Linked DNA regions of Homo sapiens. The protein of the gene in region 2 interacts with the protein of the main gene of each other region in a pairwise test. Each region holds a gene or a part of one and is shown on either strand. Other genes may lie near its edges.

Region 1 (5,149 bases), on a different chromosome or scaffold from region 2:
AAGTGCTGGGATTACAGGTGTGAGCCACCGTGCCTGGCCTACATGATGTCTTAAGAATTGGAAACAAATACTTGATTGACAGTGCAATAGTGCATTTTTCTGTGCCCTAAGTATTACTATCTCAGACTCTTACCACCCTTTTAAGTTTTTCCTTCACCTTGTTCCATCGAAATCTTATCACTCTCTATTCTTCTGTGTTTTCTGGTTAGAGGAATGGAAAACGGATGCTTCCTATATTTATTGAAAAGTCTTTCCCTTTTTATTTGTATTTTAAAATATCTAGTGCAGATTTGCTGGTAGTATCTTTAAGAATATTTTAATATATATGTCAAGCTTTTTGAAAGACAACCCTACTTTCTGTGTGGTTATTCTGTATCTTTGTTATACAGAATTTATATCCTGACTATCTTAATGGCAACATTTGGCTCTTTTAAGACAACTAGATTATACATAAATCTTCAATAAAATTATCAACTTTGTTTATTCACTGAGCCAGTTATCTTTTGGGGGACCTCTATGTGTCAGACACTTATCTAGTTGCTGTGGTTATAGCAATGAACAAAAGCAGACAAGATTTCTGCCCTCATGGATTTAATAATAAATAGTCTCATAAGAAGAGACAGATAAGAACAGCATATTTAAGTTAATTGTGTTTTGTTCTTGTTTTTTGTGTTGAGATGGAGTCTCGCTGTGTTGCTCAGGCTGGAGTGCAGTGATGCCATCTTGGCTCACTGCAACCTCCGCTCCCAGGGTTCTAGCAATTCTCCTACTCAGTCTCCTGAGTAGCTGGGATTACAGGCGCTGGCCACCACGCCCAGGTAATTTTTTTTGTGTTTTTAGTGGAGACTGGGTTTTGCCATGTTGGCCAGGCTGGTCTTGAACTCCTGACCTCAGGCGATCCACTCGCCTCGGCCTCCCAAAGTACTAGGATTACAGGTGTGAGCCACTGCACGCGGCCAAGTGTGTTATTATATTAGAAGGTGATAGTGCAGTGGAGAAAAAGCATGGAAGAAGACTAGGAAATTGATCATTTGGGGATTTCGATTAGGAAAAAATAAGCTGTAACATGGAATGACCATGTCCTTAACCCAAAAAGCTTTTAGTAGATTTATCTAACCCACACCAGGATGTTGCTGCTGCTGCTGAAGTTACTTAAGCTCTAAGAGGAACTGTATTTTTTTTAAAATGCCATATTATACAAATGTAACATGGGATTTCATTACTTGGTAATGAGTAAAACAAGTAAGGGTAGACTTTGAATTTCTTATTGGAGAGTATGTATTTTAAAGTTGAGCTAGTAACTGCTTTAATGTATTCTGTCAGTGCGTCTCAACCATCTTTTAGGTTCTGCCCACATAGAAAGTAAGTTTTGAATAGTACACTAAAGTAGATGAGATTGGGAGGCTAGAAGCACCTGGCAGGCAGCACCTCATGAAACTCCCGGGATGGGAGATCAATATTCTGGCACACCTGTAAATGCTGGGGACGCTCTACTCCCTAATATTGCTAGAGTTCTGCCATATACAATTCAAGATAGTGGTTTTCAGACTTATGTGATCCCTTTGAGACATTCTTTACTCATTTTCTTTTTTTCTTTTCCTTCCTATTGTTTCTTCCTAGAAAAAAGTAATGTATCACCAAGTAAGATTACAGTTAAATTATGTTTTAAGAAACCTTTTCTTTTTTGGAGACAGGGTCTCACTGTGTCACCCAGGCTGGAGTGCAGTGGCGCTGTCTCGGCTTGCTGCAGTTTCAACCTCCCTGGGCTCAAGTGATCTTTTCCATCTCAGCCTCCTGAGTAGCTGTGACTACAGGTTTTTGTATTTTGTAGAGACAGGTTTCACTATGTTGCCCAGGCTGGTCTGGAACTCCTGGGCTCAAGCAGTCACCTGCCTTGGCCTCCCCAAATCCTGGCATTACAGGCGTGAGCCTATGTGCCCAGTCTTAAGAAACCATCATTAAGAGAATGTTATATTTGTGGTGATACCTAAAATTGATAGGAGTTAAACAGATCTACATTTAATTTTGGTAATTCTAAAAATCTTTAAATATTACATGAAAAGTTTCTTGTAGCAAATTTTTAGTTTTAGCGTTTTAGGGACTGATTATTTGGTAGAAACTTTTATCCCCAAACTGCAGAAGCATTCTTTTATTGAAGTGAATTTTTATGTGATTCTAAACATTTTTGAAAGTGTAGCAGTATTGAGGTATTCTTTTCTCAGGTGAATCCTAAAATTGAATTTTTTGTTGTTGTTGTTAAATGCTTTTTTAAAATTTTATTTTATTTTATTTTTTTGAGACAGAGTCTCGCTGTCGCCCAGGCTGGAGTGCAGTGGTGCGATCTCGGCTCACTGCAGGCTCCAATCCCCGGGCTTCATGCCGTTCTCCTGCCTCAGTCTCCCGCGTAGCTGGGACTACAGGCGCCTGCCACCTCGCCCGGCTTATTTTTTGTATTTTTAGTAGAGACGGGGTTTCACTGTGTTAGCCAGGATGGTCTCCATCTCCTGACCTCGTGATCCGCCCGCCTCGGCCTCCCAAAGTGCTGGGATTACAGGCGTCAGCCACCGCGCCCGGCCGTGTTTTTAAATTTTATAACCTTTTTTCTTTCCTATGTATTATTTAATGTTATGAAGTACTTGACCTCCTGGATATAATTTCTGATTTTAGAATTTAACTGCTTCATTCAGACTTCTCGTAAGTTAGCAATTTTAACATATATGCTGTCTAATTTTCTAATTTGACATTCTAGAATTGTTAATTTTAGATAAAACCTCCTGTTACGTTGTGTCTTAAGATCTTAGAAAGTCAGTGCATAGTAGTTGATGTTTGTCAACTCTAAAAACAGTGATATAATTGAGAGAAATGGTCAGTTGAATTACCCTTGTGAAATTTCTGCATTTACTTCCTCTCTTACCTAGCTGGGTCTTAGACTGTTAACTGTCAATTTGTAGGGATGGAAGGAGGTTGAGATTTAATAACAGGAGATAAAGTATGAATGTGTGCTTATTTTCAGACTTAGAAATAATGCATTATTTTGGATTATTCACAGCTTTTAAAATTTTTTCTCTCTGAGACAGGGTCTCACTCTGTCACCCAGGCTAGAGTGCAGTGACGTGGTCTTGGCTCACTGCACCCTTGTCCTCCCAGGCTCGGGTGATCCTCCCACTTCAGACTCCCAAGCAGCTGGGACTATAGACACGCCACCATGCCTGGCTAATTTTTTTATTTTTTGTAGAGATGGGTTTTTTCCCTGTTGCTCAAGTTGGCCTTGAACTCCAGGACTCAGCCATCGGCCCACCTTGGCCTCCTAAAGTGCTGGGATTATTACAGGATGAGCCATTGCCCCCAGCCCACTGCTCTTTGCTCAAGTAATTGGCTATAGTGATTGAGAGAGATGGAACATGGACTCTTACAGACATTACTGTTGTAGTAGTCATGTTGCCTTGACAGTTAGATACGACGTCTGTTTGTTGATGTCAGTATGGAAGGGTTACAACATAATTAAAAGTTAGAAAATAGGCCAGCATGGTGGCTCAAGCCTGTAATCCCAGCACTTTGGGAGGCTGAGGTGAGTGGATCACCTGAGGTCAGGAGATCGAGACCAGCCCGGCCAACATGGTGAAACCTAGTCTCTACTAAAAATACAAAAAAAATTAGCCAGGCGTGGTAGAGCGCATCTGTAATCCCAGTTATTTGAGAGGCTGAGGCAGGAGAATCCCTTGGGCCCAGGAGGCGGAGGCGCCTTGCAGTGAGCGGAGATCATGCCACTGGACTCCAGCCTGGGCGACAGAGTGAGACTCCAGCTAAAACAAAAAAAAAAAAAAGGAAAAAAAAAAAGGATTATCTTTGAACAGTAAAAATTTACAATTATAATTTTACTCAGTACACAAGTATACACATGAGAACTTCTTTTTAAAATATGATACATAAAGTAACCTTGTGTTATAAACTCAGGAATATTTCTTCTTTTCTTTAGCTATAAAAACTATAAAGTAGTTTAGTAAATGCTTAATTCTTGACTGAAAAGTTACATAATTACACCAATGATTTCTCTGTGATGCCAAACTGTGTTCATTACTTACACCTTCACAGCATCAACAGATTTCAGAGCTTAGTTTCACTACTCAGTTACTGTGTAATTTTGAGTAAGTCACTTTCCAAATAAGTACATACTTACCAGCAGTTACTGCTATGTCTCTATTAGAATGAAATTAGGTTAGTTGACTTCCTTTTTTATAAAGAATATGAAGATACTATGAAGAACATTACAGTTATGGCAAACGCATGCAGCAAGAAAATAAGCCACTTTTTTGGTATATTATATAAATATGAATTTTAAATTATTCCTTTATAGGTACTGAACCTTACTATTGTAGAACTGCTTAATAGACTGACCTAAAATAGAATTAAACTAATGCAGAATTAGCTATTTAGGAATGCTTTTTGAAGTGTTAAGTAATGGACAAATATTTACGGTAGTCACTGTGTGCACATTTAAGGGATAGAGGGAAAGTATTTTTTCCTGCCTTAATGAAGCAGGAAATCTAAAGCAGAAAGTAATATCAGATTATCCTTCAAGGCTGGCCACCGCGCCTGGCCTTCAAAGATAATCTTCATTATCAAGGAGAGTTTTTAAGGTGGGATGATCCCAGCGTGGGACAAAAATTAGCTGGGTGTGGTAGCACATTCCTGTGGTCCCAGCTACTTGGGGGGCTGAGGTGGGAGGATCACCTGAGCTCAGGGAGTTCGAGGCTACAGTGAGCCAGGATTGTGCCACTCTACTCCAGCATGGGTGACAGAGTGAGACCCTGTCTCAAAAAATTTATATAAAAATAAAAAATAAAGTGCCGCTGCACTCCAGCGTGGGTGACAGAGTGAGACCCTGTCTCAAAAAGTATATATAAAAATAAAAAATAAAGGGATGATCTGGCATCTCTCTGAAAATATAGTTCTCCTTAGTATTTACCTAAATTAAGCATTTGTTAGATGAATTTTATTCCATCTTTATATTATTGCTGTCTGCTTCATTATGAGTAGTATCTGCAAAATACTTGTTCATGTTTGTCAGGTATTAAAGTGTCCTCATTTGAAAGCCTTTATTTGTGAATGTAGTTCTTGGATCACCAAAAAACAGCGCATGCTTTTGAGT
Region 2 (5,149 bases):
AATACATGTAAAATGCAGAATGGGGCTGGGCATAGTGGCTCACCTCTGTAATCTCAGCACTTTGGGAGGCCAAGGTGGGCGGATTGCTTGAGTCCAAGAGTTTGACACTATGGCAAAACCCCGTGTCTACAAAAAAATACAAAAATTAACGAGGTGTGGTGGTGCACATCTGTAGTCTCAGCCACTCAGGTTGCTGAGGCGGGAGGATCGCTTGAAACTGGGAGGTAGAGGCTGCAGTGAGCCAGATTGCACCACTGCACTCCAGCCTGGGGGACAGAGTGGGACCCTGTCTCAAAAAAAAAAAAAGAGGAAAAAGAAAAATAGTAATTATTAATGCTATTATTATTGTAGTTATTACTTGCTAATGTTAGCAGACTGTCATTATTTCCAAGAAAGTACCATGAGAGGAAAGAGTGGGTAGATAATTTCAGTTGCCTCAGGCAGCACCTTGCAGAAGGTAAGGCCAGATGGAATGGAGAACTTAGCAATGTATAATATAAGCCTTTACTTTAGACTTCTGTAACCTTTTCATTAAAAGTCAACAGTACATTTCAAGTGTTTCACAGCATTCAGGGAAGAAATTGAAGATAGATTCAGGGCTTTAGCAAAATTAGGAATCTCTCCCTCTCTTTGTATGTATATATTATATAAAATATGAAATACAATTTTATTATTTTGGGAAGACTAAAGCAATATAACCTTTGTCCTTAAGATGCCTAGGAACACAAAAATGCATTGAATTATTAGAGGGATGAGATTTACATTGCTTCACTGCTACATTGAAGTAGAGGTGATGAAGCTGTGGGAATGTACTACACAGAGAAAGAATTCACAGGTGAAAGCAAAGAGTGGAGATAGGATATAGGATTCTATACCAGAAGATGTCTTTTGCTTTAAAAGGGAGATAGACTTCCAAATAATGTGAGGAAAGTAAACTGATAAAATAACTAGAACATTGTTGAGAAAACTCTTTAATTAATTGTATTGAAAAATTAAGGTAATACAACTGTGAACAAAAGCCTTTTGTCTGCAAGTAAAACCTTTGGGATTGGTTACCTGTTCCATTTCAGTTAAATGATAGAGCAGTAGAAGCCAGATTGAAGAGTATCGAGGGAAAACTTTTCAGCACCTGTAGCAAAGCATAGTACGGGGTGAGACTTGGGTGCTAAGTTTTATTCACTGATTTTTTTTTTTTACACAGAATTGAAGAGGTAGTCTTTGCCCTTAAGCCAAAAGTGCCTTTGTATTTGGTAGGCCTCTTCATTATCAAACAGTGAATGGTGCTGACTTAGTGGAAAAATCAATGTCTGTTTCAACCTTTGTGTCTTCTAGATAAGTCAGTCTTTAACTGCATACTTCTAGATGCATAAACATACCAACATTAAGAAATCAAAATCAAAGGAAAAAAATAGCCTATCTTATTCTACCACTTTTAGCAGATACATCTTTTCTAGTTGGGGGATTCCTTTCCATTTATTATCATTTGTGCAAGTATAATTTTTACTGGGTTATAACATAAATATACTTTTTTTCTGGATTCTGTGATGAGTGTTTTAATTGGGTTGTAGCGAACCTAATTATGTTTTTAATAATTGAATATTATGTCATTAAATGGCTCTTCCAAACATAATTATTTCCTTAGAAATTTAATTTTTTTGCCATTGTTATATGCATCTCCATGCATATGACTTTGGATTATTTCCTTATGATAAAGTTCTAGGAATAACATTATTGAATAGTCGAAGATTATAGCCATTTTTAATGATTTTTGGTCAGCATTACAAAGTTATATAAAAGTTAATTTTCCATTTCACTTTGTAGAGAAATTAATGGACTTACGAAATGAATACCTGCAAGCGGATGAGGCTAATAAAAGACTTTTGGATCAAAGGTATGGTAAGAGAGTGATTCAGAAGGCACTGGAAGAGATGGAAAGTAAGGAGTGGCTAGAGAAGAACTCAAAGAGCTGCCCATGTTGTGGAACTCCCATAGAGGTAAATGTTTTGGGACAGACTTGGAGGCCATCAGACTTGCAAGGATGTTATGATTACCTTAAGAAGCCTTACTAGTCAATTTTATGACTTACAAAACACATGCTGGTATTATTACACCTTCTTACGTGGAAGGTGGAAATTTCACTATTAGATCTTGTTATCGACCTTAAATGTTTGTAGACTTCCCTTTTCAAAGTATTTGCTTACAGTGACCATTGTTCTCACATTGTATCCACCTCAAAATTGAATGGGTTGTAAGGAGGGCATACTAGAGCTATGGTCAACTCTTACCTCATCTATGTGATTAAAAAAAATCAAATCTGATCTCTCAGAACTATTTATCCTGGAATGCTGCACACCTGTTTAAGATACACTCAGGAATTAATTTGAGTCAAAATAATTAGACAGATATATTGCTTCTTGACAAAAATCTTAATATGTTTTAAAATCAAAATACATCTTAGCATTTGATTCTATTGTTCTAATCTGTTATGTCTGAACTGAACATAGTGGGCTCCAGTTAAGGAAACTAGGACTATATGTAATCACTTTTTTTTTTTTTTTTTTGATACTGAGTCTCTCTTGCCCAGGCTGGAGTGCGGTAGTGCAATCTCAGCTAACTGCAATCCCCGCCTCCCAGGTTCAAGGAATTTTCATGCCTCAGCCTCCCGAGTAGCTGGGATTACAGGCGCCAGCCACCACACCTGGCTAATTTTTGTATTTTTAGTAGAGACAGGGTTTCACCATGTTGGCCAGGCTGGTCTCGAACTCCTGACCTCAAATGACTCGCCCACCTTGGCTTCCCAAAGTGCTGGGATTACAGGCATGAGCCACCACACCTGGCCATATAATCACTTTTGACATACCTTAGCCCTATGACAGAGTGGAGGACTTGGTACCAAATATTTACTTAGATTTCTGTAAAAATTAAAAACCCACACGTTACATCCAAACATTTTAATATTAATCTAACTACATTTTCCAGTTATACTTGTGTGATTTTTATCTACTGCTTGTCAGAAGAGATTGTGCCAAGTAACTAATTGTAGTAACACTAGCTATTTTCTGTATTTTACTTCTAATGCAAAATAGAAAGAATTACATAGTCATCAGTGTGTTACATTGATATCTCAACCCTGCATAAGAAAAGGGAGAGGACCAAGACAATGTTGTACTGAATCATTTTGGCATGTGCTGTCTCTTCTGCTTTTACAGCCTTGATATTTTTCTCTTTCTATCCTTCCCACCAGAAATTAGACGGATGTAACAAGATGACATGTACTGGCTGTATGCAATATTTCTGTTGGATTTGCATGGGTTCTCTCTCTAGAGCAAACCCTTACAAACATTTCAATGACCCTGGTTCACCATGTTTTAACCGGTATGTATACACAGAATTCCTCAGGCTCACCAGCAATTTTTGGTACTTGATTTGCAGACCACAAATCCAGTGTTTTATTTAAGTACTTGGACTTATTTAGAGAATTCTCTTACATGTTTTCCCCTATAAAGGAATTTTCATATTATTTTCTCAAAAATGAGTTTTATAATGAGACTTATACACCATCTGGAAGTTTTTATAGTGAAAGTTTTCAAACACAGAAAATTTGAAAGGATAGGACTATGAATAGTAGGATACTTTCCACCCAAATTAACAGTTGATAGTACTTTGCCATATTTGTTCCCTTAACATTTTTACTGAACTACATGAAGTTGGAGTTATGATAATGCTTCAACTCTAAATATTTCCACGTTTCTCCTAAGATAAGGAAATGCTTCTACATAATGACAGTACTTTTAAAAAACTTAATGATAGTGGCATACTATTATCTAGTAAACAAACATATTTGAAACTTCCTAATTATTTCTGAAAATATCTTTTAAAGCTATTTGATTGAACCAGAATCTGAACAAGTTCAGTCATTGTATTTGGTTCTATCTCTTTAGTCTCTTAATACAGAAAAGCTTTGGCCCACCTTTTTTTTGTGTGTGTTTTGTGAACATTCACTTTTTTTTTTGTTGAGTCAGAGTCTCGCTCTGTCGCCCAGGCTGGAGTGCAGTGGTGCCGTCTCGGCTCACTGCAAGCTCCGCCTCCCGGGTTCATGCCATTCTGCCTCAGCCTCCTGAGTAGCTGGGACTACAGGCGCCTGCCACCACGCCCGGCTAATTTTTTTGTATTTTTAGTAGAGACGGGGTTTCACCGTGTTAGCCAGGATGGTCTCGATCTCCTGACCTCGTGAGCTGCCCGCCTCGGCCTCCCAAAGTGCTGGGATTACAGGCGTGAGCCACCACACCCAGCAAAACATTCACTTTTTGAAGAGTCCAGGTCAGTTATCTTATATAACGTCTTACCTTCTAGACTTTTATTTGTCCATGGTGTCCTTTAGCTTGTTTCTCTTATTTGCTATAAACTGGAAGTTAGGTCTAGACTGAAGCTTGATTCGATTTAGAATAACATTTTTTATGCTGATACTTCATGAGGAGTGATGTGTATTCCGTATTGGATCACATCAAGAGGTCCATGATGTCCCTCATTAGTGTGGTGCTCATTTCTACAGTTTGCTTTATTGTAAAGGCAAGTTTTCCATTTTGTTATTAGGAAGTAATCTGTGGGGTGATTCCTTGGCACAATGTGAATATCCTGTTCTCCAAGAGCTCTCCACTTTCAGCATCAGTTGATGATCTTTGTTAAGAGGTGTCTGTTAAGTAAACACATTGGTATTGTGAAACTGTAAGAGAAATTGAAGAAACAAGCCCTGCCATGAACTATTGGAAATCTAGTGTTGGAAATTGCATAAGTTGTAGATAACATAAGGAAAGGAAGACAAATTGACAGCTACAAAACATTCTACAAATGGAGGGTGCAAGGACTGTGAAGATAGAATGGAGTGATGAGCATGTAGTAGTAATAATAGTGTCTTGAAAGGGTTCAGTTTAAATTGCCTGACTTCCCCAGTCTTGCCTTATTCCATGTATTGTATACGCTGAGTATCAGTTTTGTGATACCTATCCCTCATTATTGTTTATCCTTGGCCCTGGAGAATTTGTCTGGATTCTAAAAGGACTGTTTTGTTCGTTTGTTTTAATTTGGAAAGGAGAGCTTTATTTCTCATAAAGAGTTGAAGCCGGCAAGGTGGCTGTTATGACAGGTTGGG

The links.
Region 1: the proteins of RNF14 (region 2) and UBE2W interact in a two-hybrid assay, tested with the Homo sapiens proteins (one large-scale study listed by BioGRID and IntAct).

The regions. Positions count from the first base shown.
Region 1 is NC_000008.11:73,871,577-73,876,725, reverse strand, and holds part of UBE2W (ubiquitin-conjugating enzyme E2 W), read left to right. Parts: intron 1-5,149. UniProt on the Homo sapiens protein: Accepts ubiquitin from the E1 complex and catalyzes its covalent attachment to other proteins.
Region 2 is NC_000005.10:141,981,559-141,986,707, forward strand, and holds part of RNF14 (E3 ubiquitin-protein ligase RNF14), read left to right. Parts: intron 1-1,821; coding exon 1,822-1,994; intron 1,995-3,244; coding exon 3,245-3,375; intron 3,376-5,149. UniProt on the Homo sapiens protein: E3 ubiquitin-protein ligase that plays a key role in the RNF14-RNF25 translation quality control pathway, a pathway that takes place when a ribosome has stalled during translation, and which promotes ubiquitination and degradation of translation factors on stalled ribosomes.